Regions from separate parts of the Homo sapiens genome. Here region 2 is linked to region 1. The links come from fine-mapping of genetic effects on gene expression. A gene starts in region 1. The other region holds a variant in brackets. All regions are shown on one strand. Distances are from middle to middle.

Region 1 (8,751 bases):
TGAGGTGGGAGGACTACTTGAGGTCAGGAGTATGAGATCAGCTTGGGCAACACAGCACGACTGAGACCCCTATCTCTAAAAAAATTGTTTTAAAAATAGCCACATGCCTATAGTCCTAGCTACTTGGGAGGCTGAGATGGTCGGATTGCTTCAGTCCAGGAGTTTGGTGTTACAGTGAGCTATGATTGTGCCACTGCACTCCAGCCTGGGAGACACAGCCAGACCCTGACTTTGGGGGGGAAAAAAAAAGGCACAGATAGATTAAAAGTAAAGGAATGGCAAAAGATACAATGTGTAAACACTAAACAAAAGAAAGCTGGAGTAGCTATACTAATTTCAGACAAAGTCGAATTTGGCAAGGAACATTACCAGGGATTAAGTGGGCATAAGATAATGAAAAAGGTGTCAATTCTCCAAGAAGGCATAACAATATTTAATACATATGCATCTAACAACAGAGTATCAAAACACAATGTGGCAAACACGGATAGAAATGCAAGGAGAAATAGATAAATCCACTCACTATTATAGAGATTTCAATACCCATCAGTAATTAACACATCCAGCTGGCAGAAAGTTAGTAATTATGCATATACTTAAACTGAAAGGTACCATCAGTCAACTGGATCAAACAGAATATCTCATCCAACGACAGCAGAATACACATTCTTCTCAAGCTTACACGAAACGTTCACCAAGGTAGACCACATTCTGAGCCATAAAAGACACCTTAACAAATTTAAAAGACTAGAACTAATATAAAGTATGCTCTTGGGTCATAGTGGTATTAAACCACAAATCAATAAAACAATGATAACTGGAAAATCCCAATATATTTGGAGAGTGAACAACACACATCTAAATAACACATGGGTCAAAGAAGTCCCAGGAGAAATTTAAAAATATTCTGAACTAAATGAAAATGCACATACAACGTATCAACATTTGTGGGATGCAACAAAAACAATGCTTAGAGGAAAAGGTATAGCAGTAAGTGCATATGCAGAAAAGGAGAAAGACTTCAAATCGTAATCTAAGTTTCTACCTTAGGAAACTAGTAAAAGAAGAGCAAATTAAATCCAAAGTAAGCAAAGAAATAACAAAAATTAGCTCAGAAAGTAGTAAAATTGAAAACCAAAAATCAATAGAGAAAATCAACAAAACCAAAAGCTGTTTTTTTGAAAAGGTCAACAAAATTGATTACTAATATGAGAAATTAAAGAGTGGCTATCACTACCGATCTCATGGACGTTAAAACAATAATAAAGAAATATTATGAATAAGTCTAGGCTCACAAGTTTGGATAACTTAGATGAATTCCTTGAAAGACACCATCTATCAAAATTTACCCAAGGAGAATTAGATAACTTGAATAAGTCTGTATCTATTAAAGAAATGTAATCAATAATGAACAACCTACCAAAACAGAAAGTGCCAAGCCCAGATGCTTTCAATGGTTAATTCCACCAAGCATTTAAAGAAGAAATAACACAGCAGCAGTGATCAAGACAATGTGGTATTGACATAAGGACAGACATACAGATCAGTGGAACAGACTTGAACGTCCGGAAATAAATCCAAAAGTGTCTATGGTCAATTGATTTTTGACAAGGGTGGCAAGGCCTTGCAATGAAGAAAGAAAAGTCTTTCTAATAAATGGTGCTAGGACAAATGTATAGCTGCATGTTAAAAAAAATGGAGTTGGATACCTACCTTATACCCTATACTAAAATTAACTCAAAGTGGATCAACCACCTAAATATGAGCTAAAACTATAAACCCTTTAGAAAAAAACCTAGGAGCAAATCTTAATGACCTCAAATTTTGCAATGGATTCTTAGATATGGCACCAAAAGCATGAGTAATGAAAAAAATTTAGATAAATTGGACTTCATCAAAATTAACCTCTCTGTGGCTGGACGCGGTGGCTCATGCCTGTAATCCCAGCACTTTGGGAGGCCGAGGTGGCCGGATCACCTGAAGCTGGGCGTTCGAGACCAGCCTGACCAACATGGAGAAACCCGGTCTCTACCAAAAATACAAAATTAGCCAGGCGTGGTGGCGCATGCCTGTAGTCCCAGCTACTCGGGAGGCTGAGGCAGGAGAATCACCTGAACCCGGAAGGTGGAGACTGCAGTGAGCCGAGATCACGCCATTGCACTCCAGCCTGGGCAACAAGAGCAAAACTCTGTCTCAAAAAAAAAAAAAAAAATTAACCTCTCTGTTTCAAACAATAACATCAGGAAAGTAAAAAGACAATCTACACAATGGGAGAAAGTATTTGAAATCATATATCTGATAAGGGACTTGTATCTAAAATATGTAAGGATTTTTGTAAAAAAAAAAAAAAAAATTTACAAGTGGGCAAAATATCTAACCAAACATTTCTCCAAAGAATAACATACAAATGGCTAATATGCACAAGAAAAGATGCCTGACATCACTAGTCATCAGGAAAATGGAATCAAAACCACAGTGAGATGCTGTGAGTCACACATCAAGTGTTGACAAGAATGTGGAAAAATCAGAACCCTCATATACTGCTTATGGGAACATAAAATGGTACTACCACTTTAGAAAAGTGTATGGCAGTTCTTCTAACTATTAAACGCAGTTACAGTATAATCTTATGACCTACCAATTCCATTCCTAGGTATAATCTAGGAGAAGTGAAAATAAATGCCCACATAAAAACTTACATGGAAATGTTTATAGCAGCATTATTTATAATAGCTAAAAGGTAGAAACACCAATGTCTAACAACTGATAAACGGATACGTAAAATGTGGTAATTGATACAATGCAATATTATTCAACTTTATAAAGGAATTCTGATGCATGTGACAACATGGATGAACCTTGAAAACACGCAAAGTGAAAAAGCCAGTTACAAAAGACCATATATTATATGATTCCATTTATATGAAAAGTACAGAATAGGTGAATCTACAGACAGAAAACAGACTAGTGGTTGCTTAGGGCTGAGGGTAATGGTGGTACTGAGGTGACTGCTTAAAGGTACATGGTTCTGTTTTGAAGTGATGAAAATGCTCTAAAATTAACTGTGGTAGTGATTACATGTATCTGTGAATGCATTAAATATTATTGAACTGTACACTTTAAATGGGTAAATATATGGTATGTGAATTATATCCTAATAAAGCCTATAAAAAAAGCTCATTTTTTTAAAAATGCAAACTGATGTATGTTTAGAATATGCTTTAAAAGAGGTCATGCAAAAGGAAAAGTGGGTTAGATAAAGCAAATGTGGCAAATCTTGATAGTTTTTGAATCTGGGTAATGAGTATATGGGGATGCATTGTGGCTTTCCTTCCCCCCTCATGTTGGACAGTTGTGGATGAGGCTGACTGTTAAACATTTTGGATCTCTAAATACTAGGCTTTTGTTTGAAAAAATTTCTCTAAAAAAAAAAAAAAAAGGCAAGTACTTCCAAAACACAATCCATCAATTCTCCAAAGCAGCATCTAATTATTTGATTGGCAACTGGATTTCTTGACTGTGGTATAAGTAGACTAAACACTAAACAGTACTCTGAACAATCTGTGGTTTTGCCTGCACTGTAGTTTTGCTTTAAGTTGGTATTTACAAAAATGACACCTGCAACTTTAGATTTAACAAGATTTTAAAATTACATGCATTTTTTACTGCCTAGTCTTATTTCGGACCCATTTTTTTCATTCTATTTCACTAGGCACTAATGTAGGCATGTGGTTCTATACAAATTATAGTTAAGATCAACAGTGAGGTGAATTACAGCAAAATTATCAATAAAAAGTTACCTGCTGACACAGCGCCGATAATTGTCAAAATATATTCTTCCTCTCTCATAGGCTATAGGTGACCTGGAATGAGTTGTCCAGACATTCTTAAATTTAGTACTTTCCTAAAAGACATAAAGAATTTCCGTTCAGGAAAGAACTCTTAGGCTTTAAGTTAGATTTTAAATTTTCAAAGCAACATAATGTCACCTATATTATTTTAAAACTTTTTGCATCCTTCCTCCACTCTGCCCTCATGTTTTGGCTTAATGAGGTGACCAACTTTTAGAATAATTGTTTCCAGGTAAGACATAAGAAGCGTAAAACTAAAAGCAGCTGGTGGCCCTATTACCACCTATCCCAGATTCCGGGCTTGTATCCTCCTCCCCATCACATGTGACCCTATAAAGGGAGGCCCCAGCGCGTTAAAACCGCATCCCCGCAGGAGGCTCGGCCGCCGCGCGCCCGCGGCCCTCCGTCCCGCCCCGGCCGGCTGGCGGTCACCTGGCACACCAGCGCCCGCAGGATGCCCAGGTTGGTCCTCTGCACCACGCCTGCGTCGCGCGAGAAGCAGCCCAGCGCCCGGCGACTCAGCCGGCTGCACACGTTGGGCTTCCGGGTCGGGCCCATGGAGGCGCGGGCCGGGCCCTGGGTAGGCTGGGCCGCCGAGTGGCGCGCCCCACACTCCCGTGCTGGGCAGCCGCCGCTGCCTTCGAATTTCGAGGCCCAGACTTTCCCGGCGGGGCCCAGGGAAAGCTGACACGGGGAGGCGGGCAGGGAGCACCCGACGGCGGGGCGAGGGAAAGCAGAGCCGCTTGCACCGCCAGAGCGCGGAGAGAAGGGAAGAAGCACTCCCTTTTCGATCTGCCCCAGGCTCTCTGGCCGCTGACAGTGCGACGCTCCGGTACCGCGCGGCCGGCCGGAGCCGCTCTCTCACCGGGAAATGTAGTTCCTAGTGCCTCGTGAGGCAGCCCGGCTTCTCCCAGGAACTACAATTCCCGTCAGGCGGCGGGGAGCGAGGGCTTGCCCGGCCCTGCCTCTGCCTGCCGCGGCCCCGCCTCCTCCGGCCCGCGGAGGCTGCGCTGTCTTGCGGGCGCGCTTCTCTGTGCTGCGAGTGGCTAGCTGGGCAGAGCCCTGGGGGCGCGGTGCTGCCGCCTCCAGGTCTCCGCCCCGTGTGTGCGCCCTGCACTTAGGGATCCCTCCCTCACTGCCCCGGTACTCACAAGCTTCTCGGCCCCGACCTTCGCCCTGGGAGGTTCTGGCCAGGTGCCGGGAGGGGCGCTGTGTCGAGGGCGATCCCCCCAAAGCAGCGTCCCGTGCTAAAGGTACGCCCCGCGGCTTTCCCTTCAGCCGCATGTTGGCTGAGGGGGACGGTAAACTGTGCTTTTGTATTAGGAAGATGCTGGCTTCCCATTCACTCTTAGTTTCACCCTCCAAACTGGGATTGAGTTACTCTTTCCCGGAGGCTTGTCCTTGGGTGGCCTGCGGGGACACTGACTGGTTTTGCGATAATTGCTTCATTTCATTTCCTCTCGCCTCCATTCTTTTTTCTTTATAGGGAATAAAATATGAAATGCTTACATTCTTATTGGACGGCCTAAGATATTCCTCGTCGATGTCTCTAAGTAAAAGATATACTTTGTTAACTAGCCCTGCCTGTATGTTCAAAGTTCCCAGCACACTAAACTTTCAGCAAGCTTGCACCACATGTGTCCCACCGCCATGCTCTAAGTCCCTTAAGGGTGGGGCCGCTGTATCTCCCACGTGGACTTGGGCATGCTACCTCTTGTTCATAGGTGCTCAAAGAAAGCCAGCGATCGCACCTGACTGGCAGAGCAAAAAGTACAGTACAGCAGGTCCTTGAATCGCATTTTTTCGTTCAGTGTCATTTTGTATAACTTGATGAGAAAAAATAATAATTTCCTACCGGGGCTACTGTTTGTGTGGATCTTGCCCCTTCTCCCCACGTCTGCATGGGTTTTCACCAGGTACCCCAGGGTACTGCCTCCCACATCTCAGTGCAGGCTGGATGAATTGGCCTTGTCTGTGTTTCCTGTCTGAGTGTGAGTGTGAGTGCTCCCTGCGATGGAATGTCGTCGTGTCCAAGGGTTGGTTCCCACCTTGCACCCTGAGCTGAGGGGATAGGCTTCAGCCACCCTCGACCCTGAACTGGAATAATTAGGTAAATAACTATCTTACTTGTTTTTATTAATCTTCCTTAAATGTATGTATAGCTCCCATTTATTTCAATGTTTAATATTAGAAGTGTTTTGGTTTGTATTTAGGAGTTTGGTGATGTTTTTGTGACCAGAAATATGTTATAGGAACTTAACTTTTGTTTATATCAATTGGCCTATGGTAAAAATGGTTTTGTTATATGTCATTTTGCTTACAGTCAGTTTCCAAAAATCTGTTGATGACATTAAGTGAGTACTTACAGTACTGGGTGAGTGTGTTGGGTCACAGTTTAAGTGTTTAGTAAACATTGGCCATATCTCTTTTTAACCCTGCTGAATTTCCTTCAGGGCTCGAGCTTTTGCTGATTTTTCATGACTTATTTACAGCATACGGTAGAGTGCTTTGTATATTTTTAGAGAGTGCTACAATAGTTAATTTGGTAATTCATGAATGCAGCTGTCACTGAGAAAACTGGAACCCAGAAAAGATAACTGGGTTTTCTTTGGCTTAAATGAAATTCAAATCATTTCTGAATTGAATTCATCAACTCTCTCATTTCTCTTTCCTCTTTGCCCCCACTTGTTTGTCTTCTTTCTTGTGGCCTTTATTTCACCACCAAGTCGTCACCAAGGGAGAGTCATCCTGGATGCCTTGCTGTTCCTCACCCACAACCAAGTCCTTTAGACTCTTATCCATCTCATCTTCATTTCACCTAAGTAATTTAGGGCCTCACCATTTTTTATCACATTATTAAGTAGTCTCTTAATTTCTGCCTTACTTGTGACACAGGATTTTTTTTTTTTGACGTTGCTTTGCCACTGGAGACCTCCGCAGCTGGAGACCTACCCAGGCCTTGCTCGGGCTGGGCTTGCCACAGGAGGTGCCCTGCACAACTGGCCCACTGGGCCACTCCTGGCTTGCACGCAGGTGTGGATCCTGTGGCCACCTGACTGTGGGCTCAGCCCCTGGCAGGAGAGGGTGTCTGAGCTGGTGAGTGCAGAGTTGTGTGGTATCCAGCTGGTTGCTCCAAGTGCCGGCACAGGAGCTGGCTCCGTGCACCGCTTGCGGCTGGACCAGGCATGTCACAAGTGACTCCCACAGTGGGCTCTGGAGTCCAGACTAGGGGAAGGTGGTGGTAACCAAATGGGTCAGGCAACCCAGAAGCCCCAGAGGTGGGTGTTACAGCATGCTAACAGCTCTTTTAGATCTGCCCTCTGCAGCCTGACGAACAGGGGCATGTTAACAGCCCTATCAGTCCTGTTACCCCACTCCCGCCCATGGCCCTGGGGCTGGCCTGGCCCCCCGCCCTGCTTCTTGTTGCATAGGGTGGCTACCAGGCGCTGCTGGTGGGGCAGAGAGCTACCGTGTTACTCTCTTCTTCCTACCCATGTTTGGTGGCATCCTGAGCTCTTGTCCTGTGTCCAAGAATGAGATTACACTAACAATCGGAGGGTGAGGAGGACAGAGAAGAGTTTTATTGAGCAACAAAACAGCTCTTGATGCAGGATTTTTGCTCTTAGCTCAGCTAGGTCTGAGTTTTTGTCTCACAATCAGTAAGAATTAGGTGTGTGGACCCCGGAGAGTGAGTGGAGTAGAATTTATTTAGTGAAAGGAAAGCTCCCAGTAAAGAAAGGGGTCCTGAAAGCAGGTTGCTGGTTGCCCCCTTTACAGTTGAATACCTGGGCTTAAGGTGCAAATTTCTGGAGGCTCCACCCCATCCTTCCAGTGTGCTCGTGGGCCCTTAGTCTGAGCTACTCCATATTGGTTATTTCCCTTACTGCACATGTGTTAGGGAATGGAATTTTCTATTGTGGGCATGTTTAGGCAAGCCCCCTGTGCAAATTCCCTTATGTGCACAAAACATCTGGTGTAAGCACTTTTGGGGCACGTCGTAGGTTCTTCAGGGACGCTTCCCTTACTGTCTGCCTAAAGCAAGCTGGCTAACTCCTTTCATTCTCAGCCAAGAGGGGACGCAAGGGTGGTCCCCCACCCAAAGTAGTTTGGCCTCTCTTCTGGCATGGCTGGGTCTGGGGCTTTTATGGGCTCAGAATGGGGAAGTGCATGCTGATTGGTTTGTGAGTATGCAAAATAGGCTAAAACAAAGGCACCACTCAAAGGTGGGCACAACAGTGTGAAAAAACAAATTAGAGAAGGGTGGGTATATGTAAAATAGGTGAAGGGTGGGGATCAATCAGAGGAAAGTGCACCAAATGGGAAGAGAGGTTCTCGATCTGGTCCATAGATTTATCCAGGACATGTAGCTAGGCTTTAAGCTGTCTTCAGCTTGAAGGTCAGGTTTCACTGGGGACCCACCCCCATCTGCCTAGGATTTGTCTGCCTCCTGCTGCTATCACTTGGGTACTTTTAATTCCAGCCCTCCTCCATACTGCTGCCAGAGTGATTTTCCTAAAGCACAAGCTGTCACTTGCCTGTTGCATTCTTTCAGCAGCTCCGAACACCCATAGCAGAATTTCTTATTTATTTATTTATTTTTATTATACTGTAAGTTCTGGGGTACATGTGTAGAACGTGCAGTTTTGTTATATAGGTATACATGTGCCATCGTGATTTGCTGCACCCATCAACCCGTCACCTACATTAAGTATTTCTCCTAATGCTATCCCTCCCCTAGCCCCTAGACAGGCTCCCTTTTTTTTTTGTTTTTTGTTTTTGAGATGGAGTCTTGCTCTGTTGTCCAGGCTGGAGTGCGGTGGGGCTATCTCGGCTCACTGCAGCCTCCACCTCCCAGGTTCAAGTGATTCTCCTGCCTCAGCCTCCCCAGTTGCTGGCATTA
Region 2 (8,751 bases), 210 kb before region 1:
AAATAAAAAAAAATACAACAGACACACAAAAAAATAAAAACCAAGAAGTTAAAACATATAACCAGAGAAAATTACCTCCACTTAAAGGAAGATAGGAAAGAAGGAAGAGAAATCCACAAAACAACCAGAAAACAAATAACAAAATGGCAGGAGTAAGTTCTTACCTACCAATAACGTTGGATGTAAGTTTGTGACCAGCCTGGGCAACATAGTGAAACCCCATCTCCACTAAAAATACAAAAATTAGCTGGGCATGTGGTGCGTGCCTATAGTTCCAGTTATTCAGGAGGCTGAGGTGGGAGGATTGCTTGAACCCAGGAGGTGGAGGCTGCAGTGAGCTGAGATCATGACACTGTACTCTAGCTTGGGCAGAGTGAGACCCTGTCTCAAAAATAAACAAACAAACAAACAAACAAAAGCCAGGCATAGACTGAAAATAAAGGAATGGAAAAGATTTTCCATGCCAATGGAAACCAAAAAAGAGCAGGGGTAGCTGTATTTATATCAGACAAAATAGACTTCAAGACAGAAACTATAAAAAGAGGCAAAGAAAGCCTTTATATAATGATAAAGGGATTGATTCTTCAAGAGGATATAACAACTGTGAGTATATATGCACCCAACACTGGAACACCCAGATATAGAAAACAAATATTATTAGAGCAAAAGAGAGAGAGATAGACCCCAAACAGTAAGAGCTGGAGACCACAACATCCTACTTTCAGCATTGGACAAATCTGCCAGACAGAAAATCAACAAAGAAACATTGGACTTAATCTGCACTATAGAGCAAATGGACCTAACAGATATTACAGAACATTTCATACAATGGCTGCAGAATATACACTCCTTTCCTCAGCACGTGGATCATTCTCAAGAATAGATCATATCTTAGACTACAAAACAAGTCTTAAAACATTCAAAGAATTGAAATAATATCAAGCATCTTCTCTGACCACAATGGAATAAAACTGGAAATCAATAACAAGAGAAATTTTGGAAAGTATTCAAACACATGAAAAATAAACACTATACTCCTGAATGACCAGTGAGTCAATGAAGAAATTAAGAAAATTTAAAATTTTCTTGAAGCAAATGATAATGGAAACACAACATACCAAAACCTATGAGATACAGCAAAAGCAGTACTAAGAGCCAAGCTTATAGCAGCAAGTGGCTACATCAAAACAGTACAAAAACTTCAAATAAACAACCTATTGATGCATCCTAAAGAACTCAAAATGCAAGAGCAAACAAAACCCAAAATAAGTAGAAGGAAAGAAATAATAAAGATCAGAGCAGAAATAAATGAAATTGAAACAATAAATAATACAGAAGATCAGTGAAATGAAAAGTTGTTTTTTTGAAAAGATAAACAAAATTGGCAAACCTTTAGCCAGATTAATTAAGAAAAAAAGAGAGAAGACACAATAAATAAAATCAGAAATGAAAAAGAAGACATTACAACTGATACTGCAGAAATTCAAAGGATCAATGGAGGCTACTTTGAGTAACTGTATGCCAATAAATTAGAAAACCTAGAAGAACTGGATAAACTCATAGATACATACAACCTACAAAGATTGAACCATGAAGAAATTCAACACCTGAACAGACCAGTAATGAGTAATGATATTGAAGCCATAATAAAAGATCTCTAAGCAAAGTCCAGGATCCCATGTTTTCACTGCTGATTATTGTGAGAAATTTAGAGAAGAACCAATACCAGTCCTACTCAAACTATTCCAAAAAATAGAGGAGGAGGAGAAAACATTTCCAGACTCATTCTATGAGGCCAGCATTACTCTGACACCAAAACCAGACAAGGACAGGTTAAAAAAAAAAAAAACTACAGGCCAATATCCCTTATGAATATTGATTCAAAAATCCTCAACAAAATACTAGCAAACCAAATTCAACAGCATATTAAAAACATCATTCATCATGACCAAGTGGGATTTATCCCAGCAATGCAAGGATGGTTAACATATATAATCAATCAACCTGATAAATCATATGTCCAGAATGAAGGACAAAAACCATATAATCATTTCAATTGATGCTGAAAAAGCATTTGATCAAATTCAATATCCCTTCATGATAAAAACCCTCAAAAACTTGAGTATAGAAGGAACACACCACAACACAAAAAGGCCATATACGGTAGATCCACAGCTAGTATCATACTGAATGGGCAAAAGCTGAAAGTCTTTCCTGTAAGATCTGGGACACAACAAAGATGCCCACTGTCACCACTGTTATTCAGCATAGTAATGGAAGTCCTTGCTACAGCAATCAGACAAGAGAAAGAAATAAAGAACATCCAAACTGAAAAGGAAGAAGTCAAATTATCCTTGTTTGCAGATGATATAAGCTTATATTTGGAAAAACCTAAAGGTTCTGCCAAAAAAACTATTAGAACTGATAAACAAATTCAGTAAAGTTGCAGTACACAAAATCAACATACAAAAATCAGTAGCATTTTCCATATGCCATTAGCAAACAATATGAAAAAGATATCAAGAAAATAATCTCATTTACAATATATACAAATAAAATAAAATACCTGTAAATGAACTTCACCAAAGAAGTGAAAGATTTGTACCATGAAAACCATAACACATTAATGCAATAAATTGAAGAGAACACAAAAAAATGAAAACGGTTTGGAAGGATCAATATTGCTAAAATGTTCCTACTCCTCGAAGCAATCTACAGATTCAATGCAATCCCTACCAAAATATCATGACATTCTTCACAGAAATAGAAAAATAGGCTGGGCCCGGTGGCTCACGCCTGTAATCCCAGCACTTTGGGAGGCTGAGGTGGGCGGATCACGAGGTCAGGAGATCGAGACCATCCTGGCTATCATGGTGAAACCCTGTCTTTACAAAAAAATACAAAATATAAGCCAGGTGTGGTGGTGGGCACCTGTAGTCCCAGCTACTTGGGAGGCTGAGGCAGGAGAATGGCATGAATCCAGGAGGCGGGGCTTGCAGTGAGCCGAGATGGTGCCACTGCATTCCAGCCTGGGTGGCAGAGTGAGACTCTGTCTCAAAAAAAAAAAAAAAAAAAAGAAACAGAAAAATAAAAAAATCGAGGGGTGGAGCCAAAATGGCCGAATAGGAACAGCTCCAGTCTACACCTCCCAGTGTGAGCGATGCAGAAGACGAATGATTTCTGCATTTCCAACTGAGGTACCAGGTTCATCTCACTGGGGACTGTCAGACAGTGGGTGCAGGACAGTGGGTGCAGTGCACCAAGTGTGAGCTGAAGCAGGGCGAGGCCTTGCCTCACCCGGGAAGTGCAAGGGGTCAGGGAGCTCCCTTTCCTTGCCAAGGAAAGGGGTGACAGACGGCACCTGGAAAATTGGGTCACTCCCACCCTAATACTGCGCTTTTCCAATAGTCTTAGCAAATGGCACACCACGAGATTGTATCCTGCGCCTGGCTCGGAGGGTCCTATACCCATGGAGCCTCACTCATTGCTAGCACAGCAGTCTGAGATCAAACTGCAAGGCGGCAGCGAGGCTGGGGGAGGGGCACCCACCATTGCTGAGGCTTGAGTAGGTAAACAAAGCAGCCAGGAAGCTTGAACTGGGTGGAGCCCACTGCAGCTCAAGGAAGCCTGCCTGCCTCTATAGACTCCACCTCTGGGGTCAGGTCATAGCCAAACAAAAGGTAGCAGAAACCTCTGCAGACTTAAATGTCCTTGTCTGACAGCTTTGAAGAGAGTAGTGGTTCTCCCACCATGCAGCTTGAGATCTGAGAATGGACAGACTGCCTCCTCAAATGGGTCCCTGACCCCTGAGTAGCCTAACTGGGAGGCACACCCAGTAGGGGCAGAATGACAGCTCACATGGCCAGGTACCCCTCTGAGATGAAGCTTTCAGAGGAACGATCAGGCAGCAACATTTGCTGTTCACCAATATCCACTGTTCTGCAGCCTCTGCTGCTGATACCCAGACAAACAGGATCTGGAGTGGACCTCCAGCAAACTCCACAGACCTGCAACTGAGGGTCCTGACTGTTAGAAGGAAAACTAACAGAAAGGACATCCACACAAAAACCCCATCTGTACGTCACCATCATCAAGGACCAAAGGTAGATAAAACCACAAAGATGGGGAAAAAACAGAGCAGAAAAACTGAAAATTCTAAAAAGCAGAGCGCCTCTCTTCCTCCAAAGGAATGCAGCTCCTCACCAGCAACAGAACAAAGCTGGACAGAGAATGACTTTGACGAGTTGAGAGAAGAAGGCTTCAGACGATCAAACTACTCCAAGCTAAAGGAGGAAGTTCGAACCCATTGCAAAGAAGTTAAAAACCTTGAAAAAAGATTAGACGAATGGCTAACTAGAATAACCAATGCAGGGAAGTCCTTAAAGGACCTGATGGAGCTGAAAACCATGGCACGAGAACTACATGATGAATGCACAAGCCTCAGTAGCCGATTCCATCAACTGGAAGAAAGGGTATCAGTGATGGAAGATCAAATGAATGAAATGAAGCGAGAAGAGAAGTTTAGAGAAAAAAGAATAAAAAGAAACGAACAAAGCCCCCAAGAAATAATGGGACTATGTGAAACGACCAAATCTTTGTCTAATTGGTGTACCTGAAAGTGACGGGGAGAATGGAACCAAGTTGGAAAACACTCTGCAGGATATTATCCAGGAGAACTTCCCCAATCTAGCAAGGCAGGCCAATATTCAGATTCAGGAAATACAGAGAACGCCACAAAGATACTCCTGGAGAAGAGCAACTCCAAGACACATAATTGTCAGATTCACCAAAGTTTAAATGAAGGAAAAAATGTTAAGGGCAGCCAGAGAGAAAGGTCGGGTTACCCACAAAGGGAAGCCCATCAGATTAACAGCTGATCTCTTGGCAGAAACTCTATAAGCCAGAAGAGAGTTGGGGCCAATATTCAACATTCTTAAAGAAAAGAATTTTCAACCCAGAATTTCATATCCAGCCAAAC[T/C]AAGCTTCATAAGTGAAGGAGAAATAAAATGCTTTACAGACAAGCAAATGCTGAGAGATTTTGTCACCACCAGGCCTGCCTTACAAGAGCTCCTGAAGGAAGCACTAAACATGGGAAGGAACAACCAGTACCAGCCACTGCAAAAACATGCCAAATTGTAAAGACCATCGAGGCTAGGAAGAAACTGCATCAACTAATGAGCAAAATAACCAGCTAACATCATAATGACAGGATCAAATTCACACATAACAATATTAACCTTAAATGTAAATAGGCTAAGTGCTCCAATTAAAAGACACAGACTGGCAAATTGGATACAGAGTCAAGACCCATCAATGTGCTGTATCAGGAAACCGATCTCAGGTGCAGAGACACACCTAGGCTCAAAATAAAGGGATGGAGGAAGATCTACCAAGCAAATGGAAAACAAAAAAAGGCAGGGGTTGCAATCCTAGTCTCAGATAAAACAGACTTTAAACCAACAAAGATCAAAAGAGACAAAGAAGGCCATTACATAATGGTAAAGGGATCAATTCAACAAGAAGAGCTAACTATCCTAAATATATATGCACCCAATACAGGAGCACCCAGATTTATAAAGAAGTCCTTAGAGACCTACAAAGAGACTTAGACTCCCACACAATAATAATGGGAGACTTTAACACCCCACTGTCAACATTAGACAGATCAATGAGACAGAAAGTTAACAACGATATCCAGGAATTGAACTCAGGTCTGCACCAAGCAGACCTAATAGACATCTACAGAACTCTCCACCCCAAATCAACAAAATATACATTCTTTTCAGCACCACACTACACCTATTCACAAAATTGACCACATAGTTGGAAGTAAAGCACTCCTCAGCAAATGCAAAAGAACAGAAATTATAACAAACTGTCTCTCAGACCACAGTGCAATCAAACTAGAACTCAGGATTAAGAAACTCACTCAAAACCGCTCAACTGCATGGAAACTGAACAACCTGTTCCTGAATGACTACTGGGTACGTAATGAAATGAAGGCAGAAATAAAGATGCTCTTTGAAACCAACGAGAACAAAAACACAACATACCAGAATCTCTGGGACACATTCAAAGCAGTGTGTAGAGGGAAATTTATAGCACTAAATGCCCACAAGATAAAGCAGGAAAGATCTAAAATTGACACTCTAACATCACAATTAAAAGAACTAGAGAAGCAAGAGCAAACACATGCAAAAGCTAGCAGAAGGCAAGAAATAACTAAGATCAGAGCAGAACTGAAGGAGATAGAGACACAAAAAACCCTTCAAAAAATCAATGAATCCAAGAGCTGGCTTTTTGAAAAGATCAACAAAATTGATAGACTGCTAGCAAGACTAATAAAGAAGAAAAGAGAGAAGAATCAAACAGATGCAATAAAAAATGGTAAAGGGGATATCACCACCAATCCCACAGAAATACAAACTACCATCAGAGAATACTATAAACACCTCTATGCAAATAAACTAGAAAATCTAGAAGAAATGGATAAATTCCTTGATGCATACACCCTCCCAAGACTAAACCAGGAAGAAGTTGAATCTCTGAATAGAACAATAACAGGCTCGGAAATTGAGGCAATAATTAATAGCTTACCAACCAAAAAAAGTCCAGGACCAGATGGATTCACAACCGAATTCTACCAGAGGTACAAGGAGGAGCTGGTACCATTCCTTCTGAAACTATCCCAATCAACAGAAAAAGAAGGAATCCTCCCTGATTCATTTTATGAGGCCAGCATCATCCTGATAACAAAGCCTGTCAGAGACACAACCAAAAAAGAGAATTTAGACCAATATCTCTGATGAACATTGACGTAAAAATACTCAATAAAATACTGGCAAACCGAATACAGCAGCACATCAAAAAGCTTATCCACCACGGCCAAGTTGGCTTCATCCCTGGGATGCAAGGCAGGTTCAACATACGCAAATAAATAAATGTAATCCAGCATATAAACAGAACCAAAGACAAAAACCACATATTATCTCAATAGATGCAGAAAAGGCCTTGGACAAAATTCAACAACGCTTCATGCTAAAAACTCTCAATAAATTAGGTATTGATGGGACGTATCTCAAAATAATAAGAGCTGTCTATGACAAACCCACAGCCAATATCATACTGAATGGGCAAAAACTGGAAGCATTCCCTTTGAAAACTGGCACAAGACAGGGATGCCCTCTCTCACCACTCTATTCAACATAGTATTGGAAGTTCTGGCCAGGGCAATTAGGCAGGAGAAGGAAATAAAGGGTATTCAATTAGGAAAAGAGGAAGTCAAATTGTCCCTGTTTGTAGACGACATGATTGTATATCTAGAAAACCCATTGTCTCAGCCCAAAATCTCCTTAAGCTGATAAGCAACTTCAGCAAAGTCTCAAGACACAAAATCAATGTACAAAAATCACAAGCATTCTTATACACCAATGACAGACAAACAGACAGCCAAATCATGAGTGAACTCCCATTCACAATTGCTTCAAAGAGAATAAAATACTTAGGAATCCAACTTACACGGGATGTGAAGGACCTCTTCAAGGAGAACTACAAACCACTGCTCAAGGAAATAAAAGCGGATACAAACAAATGGAAGAACATTCCATGCTCATGGGTAGGAAGAATCAATGTCGTGAAAATGGCCATACTGCCCAAGGTAATTTATAGATTCAATGCCATCCCCATCAAGCTACCAATGACTTTCTTCACAGAATTGGAAAAAACTACTTTAAAGTTCATGTGGAACCAAAAAAGAGCCCGCATTGCCAAGTCAATCCTAAGCAAAAAGAACAAAGCTGGAGGCATCACACTACCTGACTTCAAACTATACTATAAGGCTACAGTAACCAAAACAGCATGGTACTGGTACCAAAACAGAGATATAGACCAATGGAACAGAACAGAGCCCTCAGAAATAATGCCACATATCTACAACTATCTGATCTTTGACAAACCTGAGAAGAACAAGCAATGGGGAAAGGATTCCCTATTTAATAAATGGTGCTGGGAAAACTGGCTAGCCATAGGTAGAAAGCTGAACCTGGATCCCTTCCTTACACCTTATATAAAAATTAATTCAAGATGGATTAAAGACTTACATGTTAGATCTAAAACCATAAAAACCCTAGAAGAAAACCTAGGCAATACCATTCAGGACATAGGCATGGGCAAGGACTTCATGTCTAAAACACAAAAAGCAATGGCAACAAAAGCCAAAATTGACAAATGGGATCTAATTAAACTAAAGAGCTTCTGCACAGCAAAAGAAACTACCATCAGAGTGAACAGGCAACCTACAGAATTGGAGAAAATTTTTGCAATCTACTCATCTGACAAAGGGCTAATATCCAGAATCTACAATGAACTCAAACAAATTTACAAGAAAAAAACAACCCCATCAACAAGTGGGCGAAGGATATGAACAGACACTTTTCAAAAGAAGACATTTATGCAGCCAAAAGACACATGAAAAAATGCTCATCATCACTGGCCATCAGAGAAATGCAAATCAAAACCACAATGAGACACCATCTCACACCAGTTAGAATGGCGATCATTAAAATGTCAGGAAACAACAGGTGCTGGGAGGATGTGAAGAAATAGGAACACTTTTACACTGTTGGTGGGACTGTAAACTAGTTCAACCATTGTGGAAGTCAGTGTGGTGATTCCTCAGGGATCTAGAACTAGAAATACCATTTGACCCAGCCATCCCATTACTGGGTATATACCCAAAGGATTATAAATCAT

Evidence for each region.
Region 2: its variant is fine-mapped to the expression of METTL8 in fibroblasts (GTEx, PIP 0.95).

What each region holds. Positions count from the first base shown.
Region 1 is chr2:171,430,236-171,438,986 of GRCh38, reverse strand. It overlaps METTL8 (methyltransferase 8, tRNA N3-cytidine), which reads left to right and starts at 4,997. Exons shown (of 10, transcript NM_001321154.2): 1 at 4,997-5,104. DCAF17 (DDB1 and CUL4 associated factor 17) reads right to left here and starts at 4,761. Exons shown (of 14, transcript NM_025000.4): 1 at 4,284-4,761; 2 at 3,801-3,904. The coding sequence starts at 4,409. RefSeq lists enhancers at 3,935-4,494, 5,314-5,383, 5,056-5,616, 5,594-5,763 and a silencer at 4,094-5,003.
Region 2 is chr2:171,641,769-171,650,519 of GRCh38, reverse strand. No RefSeq gene overlaps it. Among named protein-coding and RNA genes, the nearest start is that of DYNC1I2, 41 kb to the left of the region's middle. The variant T/C (reference allele first, on the strand shown) is at 4,979.